Regions from separate parts of the Homo sapiens genome. Here all the other regions are reported to be linked to region 2. Evidence: microRNA targets listed by miRTarBase, many of them from high-throughput screens and not tested one by one. Region 2 holds a microRNA gene; each other region holds the end of a gene's coding sequence.
What was found. The annotated mature microRNA hsa-miR-1245b-3p reads UCAGAUGAUCUAAAGGCCUAUA and lies in region 2 at 1,448-1,469, opposite strand. An mRNA with a match to its seed (bases 2 to 7 or 8) in the 3' UTR can be bound and repressed. Matches are read on the target gene's strand: a 7mer-m8 pairs with bases 2 to 8, a 7mer-A1 pairs with bases 2 to 7 and ends in A, and an 8mer does both.

Region 1 (4,000 bases), not on the chromosome of region 2:
AATATTAACGGACATGTGTATATAAACAGGTTAGTATGTACATGTATATTTTCTTGCTCTGTCAGCTTAGAGGCCTAGAAGTAACAATACTCCAGTAGCAATAAGCACAACTAGGGCTCAGAGTTTAGTTTCTAATACCATTCTCCAACAAAAGGAATCAGACTCCTTGGAGAAATGTCTGATTCTAGGACTGGGACAGGGAATATAAACGATGCGAATCTTTTCTAGTGCTCATCTTTTATAATGCTCACCTTTTAGACCACCTTCTAGTGCCAGAAAATAAGGAAGTACTCGGAAAAACATAAAAATCTGCACTGACGGGGTTATGTTAAAGGGATATGGGAGACAACAGAAAGAGCTCCCAATGTTGAAAGCTGGAACAATTAGAGCAACAAATTATTATTGGATTATAACTCAAAGTATAAAATAAATATCCATGAGTCTATACCGATAGAAATAAATAATTGAAAAAATAAATGGAAAAGAGATCATCTCCCATGCAGAATTCCAAATAATCTATGTAGACACTTTGCCCTCAAGGAGGTAGACTTATGTCCCCATTCCTTAAATGTGTGCTGCTCATAGTGACTTCCTTACAAAGACTGCAGTGTGGAAATCTGGGGGAGTCGTAAGCACAAAGCTGTCCCCAACTGACCCCTGCCAGGTTTGACCTCACTCCCAAATTCCCACGGCAGGATTTTCGTATGTGCGTCTCACACCTTGCATTTACCAATTATTTATTTTTGTGTTAGTCAACGCAACTAGATCGAACTCCTTAAAGACAGAATACACAGGGAGCCGAGCCCCTGCTTGTAAGTAACAAACCCCAAACTTGAGCTCAAGTCCTCTCAAGCCAAGTTCCTTGGAGCTTCTCTCTCATGAGTAGGCTTCTGTGTGAAGATACAGCCCTTCAAGAAAACAGCCTTCACCTAGAATGGCAAAAGGAATGAAAGAACACTTCATTCTCACATTGCTGTAAGGAAATACATGAGACTGGGTAATTTATAAAGAAAAGAGGTTAAATTGACTCACAGTTCCACATGACTGGGAAGGCCTCAGGAAGCTTACGATCATGGCAGAAGGCGAAGCGGAAGAACAGCACCTTCTTCACAGGGCAGTGGGAAGGAGAAGGACTGCCAGCAGGGGAAATGCCAGATACTTATAAAACATCAGATCTCGTGAGACTCACTCACGAGAACAGTACAGGGGAAACCGCCCCCATGATCCAATTACCACCACCTGGTCCTGCCCTTGACACGTGGGGATTATAAGGATTACAATTCAAGGCAAGATTTGGGTGGGGACACAGAGCCAAACCATATCAGATGGATTTTTGTAAAGATGTTAAAATATAATAAAATAAATAAGCTACCTTATTGCACACCAACATTTCATCAGACATTACAGACATAATATCTAGTATCTTCACTCTTTACAACGTCCCTACTGTAAAGTACGACATTAGGATCTTTGTTTTACAGATAAAGAGACTGAAGTTTAGAGTGGTAAAATGACTGCTAAAAAGTTGTAGAGCCACAGTTTAAACCTGGTCTATCTGATTCCAGAAACACAGGCTTTCCCCAACACATCTTGGCATTTTTTTGTGCAGTGAGTTTACAAAAGGTAAATCAGCAGTTAGTCTTTCTCTGTCTATTAACATAAGGAGTTATTATTAGGTTCAAATGCTAGATTTTGAGCAGCTTGGGCACCTCCTGCTGTTGCTAACAGCCTCTTCAATCAGGCTTCAGCCTATAATTTTAAGCCATTTTTTGAAATTTTTGCATGCAATCTACTTTCAACTATGCATAATTCTATCAGAGCCCCTGTAGAAGCAGGAAATTATCAGAAATGCAGACAATTACCTTAAAAAGGTAGAGAAGAACATAGATGTGGTGGACTTTACAGATTCAATTATATCTACTTGCCCAAGAACTTATGGCCCTTAAGTAGTGGAGCAGGATTTGAACTCCAGTCTGCTTATTCCCAAGACCATGCATGCTCCACTCTGCTGTCCTGTGTGTAAAAATCACTCCACTTTCTCTGTTCTCACTCGAGGCCCACTGGACCTTCTGATGGATGGGAAAACTGGCGCCATCATCTCTTCTCTCCTGCATTCAAACTGCTTACCTGCACCTTTCTACCAATGCAGTCATGCAGTCAAGTGGCAGCTGAAAACGGTGCACAGCTGCTGTCCCCTGGGAGAAGTGCAACCCCAGCGAAGGTACTTGTTGGGGTGCTGCATGCATGCTGATGGGAAACTGCAAATAAGACTTGGTCTTCTGGTTGCCCATGGAAAAGGGACATCCATGGCAGATAAGCATTTTAGTTAGAAGACTCAGGTTCAAATTGAGGATTCCTCCCATATAGGTGGTTTCATCATAGGCAAATTATTTAAACTCTGAGTCTCAGCTTCCTTGGCAGTAAAATGGGAATAGGGATACTCACCTTGCTGGGGTACTAGTGATCATTAAAAAGTAGGTTAAAGTTGTTGGAAGGGTCTAGCAGCAACTCTCATATGACAGATGTTTGATTTTTTATCAGTCATCGCTTTTTTCCCTTGCTGGTGAGAGGACTCTCATCCTAATCATCCCCTACTGTCAGAGAATACCCATTGTAATTGTATTATTTGCCCGGCTGACACCATGATGTGGCCCAGCCCCAGTGAGATATTACTGGCCTCAGGCACTGCTGTGTGGATGGGAAGGGTCAGCATTTACACAAGCTCTTGGTAAAACACAAGCACTTGTATGGAGTCTGTTTATAGGTAACTGTGTGAGGGCTGTTATGTGTCCATGGATCAAGGCCAGGAGAAAGGATAAGGTTTGTGGGCCATGAAGTGTGAATCCTGATTTTGCCATTTATGAGCTTTATGATCTTGTAAAAATCACTTCAGTTTTCCATACCATTGAATTTCCTCATTTGTAAAATGGGAAGATAACCCTGATTTGAACTGGTGACGGTAGACCCCAGGGGCTGACACATGTTTTGGCAACTGGAGCGATAGAGGGCGAATCTCTCTATTGAACACCACACAGGGAACAAAACGTAAGACGTAATTTCAAATAAATGCTTCCTACATAAAGCAAACATGGGTTTTGTAATAAACAGCTTTGTGCAAAACACATTTATTTTTTAAAATTCCCTTTATAAAAATAGAATATGTAACAAATACAAAACATAAGAGTAGAGAATCTGGCTGTCACCACACAGACCATAGCTTCTGCAGCAGAGGATGGGGTGTGGATTGCAGGGTGGGGGTCTCCTCCAGGGCCCTGGGGAGGTGGGGCTGAAAGAAGGAGTGTTTATGTCCTTGTGATATGGAAGAGAGTGGGCCATCTGGAAATTCATGAGACAAGATTAAACCGAGTCCCTGCAAGTTGGCATGCGCTACGGGGTCTGTGCCTTCTGCATGTGCAATTTATATTTGCGAGTTGTGCATTATAAACACACAAACACCGGCGGGCAGGAGAAAATCATCCCTTCTCTCTTCAGATGCTCCCGCAGGTCTTTCCCTTGGGCTAGTCCATGCCCAAGGCCCTCATGGCCTTTTTGGCATTCAAAAAGTTCTTCTTTTTCCTGGGAGGAACGTGCAGTGAGATCTCTGGCTCCTTTGGATTTCTGAATATAAAGAGCTTCTCTCCTGTGTTTAATAGATCAATGGTTTCTGCCCCTACAATGGGTACAGGGGCCAGTTCGCCAATGGGCTCCAGTGACAGGTGTGGCCAACTTCCTTTTCCAGAGAATATCATCCTCTCTCTGAGAGGGAGACATGTCTTCTTTAATATGCTAAAGAAATAGCAAAAGATCAAATTCAATATTTTTGGCAATGAACCCTCTGGAGTGTTCTGAGTTCTCCAAGAGAATCCCTCCTTGGGTCCTGAATTCCCCAACCCAGTGCCATTTTAACAAAAGGTTATTTTCCCCCTTGGTCACCAGATTGCTGTAAAATTAGCTGAAGCCTGTAACAGTGGTGTGCTGTAGTCAACTCTTCCTGGCTCAT
Region 2 (4,355 bases):
GGCACAGCTCTAATGAACACTCACTTCTAGTTCACTCACAGGCATTTTCTGGATACAAACAAGTCCTCAAAAAGAATTTTGGTCGTCTTACAAATTTGTGAACATTGTATTTAATTCATGTGTTTTAATCCACCAATGGAGAAACATAGTCTGTTTTATATTTCCTGTAGATTATAAACATGCCAAGTTTTAAGTACAAAGATGCGTCACCTAGTGGCTGACAAGCCAGGTTACCATTTACATAACGAATGCCAATATTAATGTTATGTAGCTGGCTTTGGTAGTTTATAATGAGCTTTAAAAAATTCATATGCGTGAATTTTAAATGTTAACACTGCTCTCCTAAGGAAATTAGTATGTTACGGATAAATATTGCAAACACATATACTGACACGAAAACACAATGGTAACAATATTCAGAGTCTTTTTGGAAATTAGCTTAAATGTTACGGCCACTTAAAAATTCTACATATGACTATTGTTTAAATACATTTTTCATGTCTCTGATGTAGTCCTTATTTGACATAAGTATTTTATTCACTGCTTAATTGTTAGATAGATTATAGACAGCTGTTACTAAGTAATACTGCTCCATTAGGGCAGAAACAGAAACTTTATTTTAATTAAATGTGTACTAATGTTTGAGTTTCTATATTTTGCTACAGTGATAATTCCAGTAAAATAAACTGTAGGCCTCTAGTTGTTTTAGAATTTTAAAACTGTAAATGGACTCAGAGAATCAGTTTCTTATTAGACGTCATGAGAGTATATTTTTTTCATTATGCTTTAAGAGGGAATTTGTAACTTGCTCAGGTAACATTCAAGTTTTCTGGTTTGTGTTTGTCCCTACAATTAAACACACTGAACTAACAGGAAAAGGTTACATACATTTAGGAACAATTGCACTTTTAAAGGGAGAGAATGCATAGTTGCTCACATATCTCAGTGTCAGTCACCTAACATGGATCAGTGCTTTATTTGAGATTACAAAACTAGAAAATGACGGAGTCAAGGCTAGGACCAATATTCTGTTCAGTCTTAGATAATTATAGAATACACATTAAAATCAGATATTTGAATTTTCTTAATTTTGTAACTATTTGTCATTGAAAGGAGATACTAAAAAAATTATATATCGTCCTAGAAAGTACATGAACTAATAATGCATTTCTAAAGGTGAAAAAAGAATAGGTATTTTTCTGTTTAATATTCAATTTTATAGAGAGTAGTACGTTAATTTTTTTAAACCCCAGAAGCTCAGGATCTTATCATTTTAAAAGAAATTATCACCAGTTCTGTGTGAGTAAATAAAGTATTATAACACTTTGTGTTTTTCATCCATGATACCTTGTATTTACTTACCTGAGCTTTTTTTCTAGGGAAAGAAAAATGCTCAGGTAATAACAGAGCCTTGAAAAATTTGGATTTTCAAAACTACCTATTTATGTATAGGCCTTTAGATCATCTGATGTTGAATACTCTTTAAGTGATCTAAAGGCCTACATATAAAAAGGTATTTTTATTAAATTCTGGAATTAAACATTTCAGCATTACAAGAAAAGAAAGCAAATCCACTGGAACAATTCTGGGAAAGAAGGAAAGACTGTGATTAAATGCCTCTTAACTACTTCAGATTCCTGGATTGATGTCTTATCTACAGGCTTCTTTTTAAAAATCAAGAATGATTGGCTGTGAGTTTACCAGGATTATAGTTGAGGCTAAAGGACAGCTCCTCAGGAAAGCCCCTGTTCTACATCTACGGTCACATGCTGGACCTTGAGTTGTCACTCAGAGAAAAGAGTGCCATCTACCGAAACTCCACAGTTTCCATTGTGAATGGCTTCTTTGGTGCAGAGTTCCAAAAATTATGTAGCCCAGCTCTTTAATTTTGTAACATCTAATGATATCACCGCCTTGAAGTGATTAAAGTAGATTGCTTAAAGAATTAAAGCTTTAAAGATGAAAGATGTTATTGCTTTTGCTGGACATGAGGAACAGTTGTAAAGTTTCCAGGTCTACAATAACTTTCTGGAACCCTCTCAGTGAACTGTTTCTTGTAAAAGTTTTCCCTAAGATAAAAGCTCAATCCCATTGTTTCCACACTCAAAAAAAAAAAAAAAAAAAAGATCATATAGTGTAAAAAAAAACTCTCCAGACTTTTCAAAGGGGAAACTTTGCCTGTTTCATGTCAAGATGACAACGGAAAAAATGAGATAGCTATTCTTACATAAATCATTTGTGAACTGCAGTTGGGGGAGTTACATTAACCACCAGAGTTTCAGTCTGTGTCTAATGAAAACACAGCAGAAGTGGATTCCTTTCAGATTAACTAATAAAACCCTTGTTTTTTTCCATGACTGAGGTCAAGCACTGCTGTTTAAAATGTAGTCTTAATGAACAAAATGAAACGTTGAAAGAGGACGAGTCAAAATGCCCAAAAGATGTAAACATCAAAGAGAAAAGATCCAGAAATTATTAAAAGTTAAACTTCCCTTGAATTCTAGTATTAAGAAAGTACTGCTTCAGTAAAATGGCATATATTTTTCTGAAACTGTTTTTCTATAGTATTTTGTGTGGAGGATGACAGAGACTGCATTTCTCAAGTAAATTAAAATCACAGAAATACTCTTTGGAGTTGCATAGCATGTTCACAACGTTCCAGTTTCATTCAGTGAAAACTTCTGATGAACTTAGATGTATATTAACATGAATCATTTAGTAACTATATTTTCTGAAAAACAGTGTGTTAATGAGACATCTTAAACATATTTTTGCATTGGATGCAGAAGTCTTTTCTGTCTGGTACTATTGTTGTTAGAACCCTACTTTTTTGTATATAGCAAAATGTATGCAGGGTTTCTGAGTCACACATTTATTCTGTTGGTGGTCTGGATGTCATCAGGGTAGCTTTAGAGATATAACCCTTCTTCATAAGGTCAAGAGAAAATAAACAGGAGAATTTAACTCCAGATGGCATCTTCCTGTTTTGAGGCCAGATAGAAAAATATTTTGCAAAGAACTGTTGTCCTTCAAAATATACCTATCTAGATTCAGATTTTAACCTTGCAGGGATAAAAAATCATATGGGACAGAGCTTTGGAGTTGGCTTCTTTAATCGTACTCAGTTTTGAAATAGCAGAAAGAAAATAGAATGCAGTAATTAAGAGTATCAAATTTAGAGAAAGCCTTCTTACACTCAGATCTTCTTTTTCACCCTGACTGTGTAACCTTGGGAAAATTACTTAATGTTTCTGCAGTTAAGATTCCTCATCTGTAAAATTAGGATTATGACAGCTGTAAGCTCATAAGGCCTTTGGGAGTATGAAGCAAAATAGATATTCAAACTACTCAGAGCAGTCCCTACAAGATAGGAGGTACTATAGCACTAGTTTTACTAACGCTGGCAAATAAAATTACTCTAAGGAAGAAATTAAAGTACTTAGTAACTTAGTGATAAGGATGGTGAAATGTAAAATTTTATTTATAAGACTATACAATTTAAAGTTGTTTGCCAAATGTAATAAGACAAGTAGAATATATTCTCTTCAATGTTTTTATAATTTGACACTAAGAAGATTTTATTATATATGCAATTGCTGGTGGTTAGATATATGATACTTAAAATTTTCTAATTATCTAATTATTTTTATTTTTAACAGGATAAAATATTAATCAACTTAAAGGACATTTCTAAGGAGATTGAATTCTAAAAGATTAATCTTTTAGACAATTCTAAAAGATTAATCTTTTAGACAATTCTAAAAGATTAATCTTTTAGACAATTCTAAAAGATTAATCTTTTAGACAATTCTAAAAGATTAATTGAATTCTAAAAGATTAATCAACTTAAAGGACATTTCTAAGGAGATTGAAAAAGCATATATCTATAAAATATGAAACAAGAAAATATCTACAAATGATAATTTATCAACTTTTTTTCCTGGAGGTAGCAAGAATAAATAAAATCTTATTTTCTATGCAAAACAGTGCTTTTAAATTAAAATTATTCACCTAGAATGTCTACAGATACTTTCTTCAGAGTCCTTTTTGTTAAGTAATCTAACATATTTTAAGATACTCTGATAAATACATAAGCAGCAGAAAAAATATTTTATTAAAATTTATGTTTTCCAAACAATATCATTTAAAAGGCAAACCAAACATTATTTCAATTGGAAACTATATGAATGCCAAATACCCACATGTACAAAATATTCAGCTTTCTAAAGTAATGAAAATAATTATGATAATTTATATATCATATCTGTGATTCTTAGATTTTCAGATTATACAACATCTTTTCCCAGATAAGGATTTAGTAAGAAGAGAAAAGGAAAAAACATTCACTTTTCATT
Region 3 (4,355 bases), not on the chromosome of region 2:
CTTCTGTCCAGCAGAGTTTTAAAAACAAACCCTGCGGAGTTCCTGGCTTGCTGACCCCCATCCCTGGGTTCTCCCACCCCAACGGAGGCACATCTGAGTCAACGACATCCACAGCTGTCTTCTTCGGCACCATGCCGTGATGCCGCAGGAAAATGATGTGCTATGGAACCAGCTACCTACCTGCCAGCGGTTAACTGCTCTAAGCCTCCACTTATTTACTTGCAAAATGGGGATCTAACACCTACTTTACAGGATTGGGTGAAGATTAAAGGAGATCATGTATATCAGGCACTTTGTAAACTGGAATGTACTAGACAAATGCTATTATTCCTTTCTCTCAGAACATGAGCCCCCCCAATCTGCTCTCCTCTCCTCCCCTCCCCTCCCTTCCCTTTCCCTCCCCTCCCCTCTTCTTTTCTCTCTCTCTTTTTTTTTTTCTTTTCTTTCCTTTCCTTTGACAGAGTTTCGCTCTGTCGCCCAGGCTGGAATGAAGTGGCACAATCTTGGCTCACTGCAATCTCCGCCTCCCCGGTTCAAGCAATTTTCCTGCCTCAGCTTCCTGTGTAGCTGGGATTACAGGCGCCCACCATCACGCCTGGGTAATTTTTGTATTTTTAGTAGAGATGGGGTTTCACCCTGTTGGCCAGGCTGGTCTTGAACTCCTGACCTCAAGTGATCTGCCTGCCTCAGCCTCCCAAAGTGCTGCAATTACAGGTGTGAGCCACCATGCCCAGCTTGAACCACTTTTATTTTATTCCTTCTCTTCCCTAAAAAAAATTGAGGATAAGCTCTGCCTTTTTTCATCAACCATAATAAGTATGGTATCCATTCACTACTTGACTGCTGGAGAGCTCAGGACATTTGGACAGAATGCTTCAAACTGGGGCCAAAGTAGCCTGTCTCCTCAGAGAGCTGACTTCTGGGCATACGCATCTCTGTAGTGGGAGGCCACATGAAAGTGAACCTAACTCATGTACAGAGGTCATCGCCATGTCACTTCCTAGTAAATGCTCAATAAACTTGTAAACCACCCCCTCTCTTTAGAGCCCTACAGTTTTGTTCTTATTGTGGTGGTGGAGGTGGGGAGTTGGTTAGGTGGTCTTATCGTCACCCTGCAGCCCCACTTTCTCATCCTGACAACCCTCTTTCCCACACCGGGTCATACAGAGGGACTTTTGATGCTTCCAGCTAGATGGCAGGGGCATCCTGTGGCATCCTGCTGTGCAGGGCCTTGATCATCAGAAAGGGACTGGCTGGCAACCCCTAGCCACTCCTGTCGCTCTGGCCAGTAGTAGATTCTGCTTATCAAAATTAACTTGAGAAGTTGAACTGCTTCTGTGTATGTAGAAAACCCTCTTTGGAGAATTTTCCCCTAATACAAGTTTACATTCAAGTCTGAACTGGGTAGATTTTAAGTAAAATGAGTAGTATATCCATAAAAGTCTCCACTTATCTTCTGCTACAGTCATTTTTTGTTGAAGTACAAAATGGGACTTAGGGGACTTTCCCACGGGATGCCTCAGAATACCAACACATGCAAGGGTTTCTTATGGACATTTAAGATGTGAAGGGCAAGAGTGAAATGGGGAAAGGAATACAGAGTAACTCACAGAAACAAAACAGAGATCTCAGTAATCAAAATAGTTGCTTTGTTCCTAAGAAACCCTCTCTTTTGTTAATGGGTCTGATTTTTAAAAACTCTCAGAGGCCTCTAAAGCACTTGTTTACACATAGCCCTTCCCCATGTACAGCCAGGGTAAGGACACTGCAGAAGGCTGTAAAAGCTTGCACAAAGCCGGCCTCCAGATGATCCCTCTGACTTAAAACCTCTTAAATCATAACTGCTTAACAACATGACTTTCATACGTACACAAGTTTTGTTGTTCCTGTATTCATCCACACAAGGGGTTGATTAAGAAAAAATTCCCTCAGGTACAGTTCATCGGAGTTTCACTGAAGCCCGTGGAGGAGGCTCTGATGTTTCTATCCTGAGCTCTGTGAACTCTGCTTGTCCTTTGCAAGCCCATAGACAAACAGGCCATTCAAGTGCTCAATGGTCCCCACTGCTGTTCATGAGACCCACAGAGAAAGAGGGCCTGAGAGATGAGATGCAGGCTCCTCCAGGAATGAAGAGGGCTTCACAACCATCTTCACTCGTCATTGTCTGCCTCTGATCCATAATTCTGACATAGACACCTACTGCATCCTTTGATTTCTGCAATTCAGAACCAGAGGCCAAAGTGTAGTTTGCTTTTTCTTCATCTTGGCAATGGCATGACCAGTGGCCAGCTATCTAGTGGTGTCAATAAAAGAATAATAAAGAGAGAAAAAAATAAAAGGAACAGGAAAAGAACATCCTTATTTACACCATTTGATTGCTACCTACTAAAAGCACTTAGGAGAAAACAATGCACATAGTGAATCATCCAATCAGAAACACACAGCTTTATATTATTACAAAAAAGAAAAACACCTCACCTTGTCTTTGTTTCGCAGCACAGACAGAAATCATTTTAAGACAGAGGATCACATAGGCAGTTGTACACCCAGCTGACAAACACTTTGGGTCTGGATTTCCTCCCCCAACCACATTACATCAGCTTTGACACATCTGTAAAACATCTTCTCTGCAGAAAGTCAGACCCTAAAGATCAAACCCAGGGAGGCACCCTCTCCCCAGGCCAGCTACTCTAACTCATAACCCTCTGAAGACACTTGGTAAAGGCAACACAGCTGACGAGAGCAGTGCTGCCTCAGCAGTAGTGGGCTCTGGCCCCGCCAAGGCAGGGAGGACTAGGGCCGAGCTTCTGAGAAGCCATCCAGATAGGCAAGGGAGAAGGGGAGGGGGTGCAGTGGGGATAAAAGAACCTGATGAAATGGAAGAAAGCATTACCTTGGGAGTTACCATTTTGAATTATTATATAATCAGACTCTAGCCTGGCATCACGGAGACTCCAAGAGCCACGGACAATGGGAAAGAAGTGTACTTCTTGAATGCAATTCAAAGTTATCTGAACTTTTTTCACTGTTTCTAGATTCCACTTTGCTTGGGAAACTACAAGAACTTCTTTAATCAGCCATGGCCTTCCAAAAAGTAGAGTGATGTGGCAGGCAAGACAGGGACAAGCAGGCCCACCTGGTAAAGGATGGCTCTGACATTAGAACCTGTTGGCTGCCCTCTCCACTGCCAGGGAAGGAAGCTGGCCATGCAGGTGAAGAAAGGCACCAGCCCTGTTTCCTGCCTGAAGGGCAGCATCAAGGTCATAGTGTCCAAAGGCCCGGAAGAGGTCAGTCTCAGATGGGTGCTGGCAGAGTCCTAGCCAAGTGGCCAGGCTGAATCCTTCCTGAGCCACCTGCAGGAAGAGTCAGGAGGGCGAGGCTCTGGCCACTGCCTTGCAGCTCACAGCTGGTTCACACATGCATGCAAAGGGCAGGTAACTAAGTAACCAACCCCCAGAAAGCAGTTTCATCGTTTTTGTTTTTATTTTTCCCCTTTCAACCTGGTTTTCGGCTCTGGAAGCTGTTCCTGTGCACAGTTCTATTTCCTACAGTTCTGAGAAAGCGGTTCCATCGCAGATGACCAAAGGCTGGACCCCTCTGGCTATAACGTAGACCTTCCAGTGGGTGGTGTCGACATAGCCTTGAGGGGAAATAGCAAGAGGAAGGCATGTAAATGTCAGAGGGTGGGCACACCTGTGGGCACGAGCAAGGCAGGTCTGCCAGAGCTGGCCCTCAGGGTGCACTGCAGAGTCAAAGACAAATCTTTTTCTATTTAATTTAGTTTCCTTTTTTTTCTTTTTCTTTCCTTTTTTATTTTTTAAGAGATAGGGGTCTCACTATATTGCCCAGGCTGGTCTTGAACTCCTGGGCTCAAGTGATTCTCCTGCCTCAGCCTCCCAGAGTGCTGAGATTACAGGTGTGGGCCACTACACCTGGCTTAAAGACAAATTGCTCTGAAAGTCTTCTGGCACTTCCTAGCATAAGTATTCCTAGTTATTATCAGTCCTCTTTAAATGCTTTATCACCACCCCTCACCCAGGGAACTGTGAATCACAATTCAGCAGGCTTACAAAGGCAGGATGCTCTAGATGAGGCTGCTGTTGGGCATCAAGTCTCAGCTTTTACAGCAAGAAGACAGAATGGATTCCGAGGGGACACAAGACCTACTAGCCAATTTTCCTGTGTCTATCTATAATGTGGTTTCATTACAGAACATCCAGATTAACCTAAACCTAAACCAGCATTGCCCAAATTGGGTTTGGCAAACAGTAGTGTCCTGTAAGATATTCCAAAGAAAATAGGTTCCATGGCCAAGTAAGCCTGAGAAACACTAGGTTTCCCCAAGGCTTTTCAAC

Region 1: miRTarBase lists EVC2 as a target of hsa-miR-1245b-3p. Seed matches in the 3' UTR shown: 7mer-A1 at 3,489-3,495.
Region 3: the mRNA of C6orf89 is a reported target of hsa-miR-1245b-3p. Seed matches in the 3' UTR shown: 7mer-A1 at 3,295-3,301 and 7mer-m8 at 1,804-1,810.

What each region holds. Positions count from the first base shown.
Region 1 is chr4:5,559,330-5,563,329 of GRCh38, forward strand. EVC2 (EvC ciliary complex subunit 2) reads right to left here. Exons shown (of 22, transcript NM_147127.5): 22 at 3,110-3,786. The coding sequence ends at 3,519. Among named protein-coding and RNA genes, the nearest start is that of LINC01587, 37 kb to the left of the region's middle.
Region 2 is chr2:188,976,652-188,981,006 of GRCh38, forward strand. MIR1245B (microRNA 1245b) reads right to left here and starts at 1,510; the gene lies at 1,442-1,510. The region is part of intron 1 of COL3A1 (collagen type III alpha 1 chain); the gene reads left to right. It overlaps MIR1245A (microRNA 1245a), which reads left to right and starts at 1,441; the gene lies at 1,441-1,510. The region is part of intron 1 of LOC105373791 (a long non-coding RNA gene); the gene reads right to left.
Region 3 is chr6:36,922,632-36,926,986 of GRCh38, reverse strand. It overlaps C6orf89 (chromosome 6 open reading frame 89), which reads right to left. Exons shown (of 9, transcript NM_001286635.2): 9 at 1-3,640. The coding sequence ends at 3,546. Among named protein-coding and RNA genes, the nearest start is that of PI16, 30 kb to the left of the region's middle.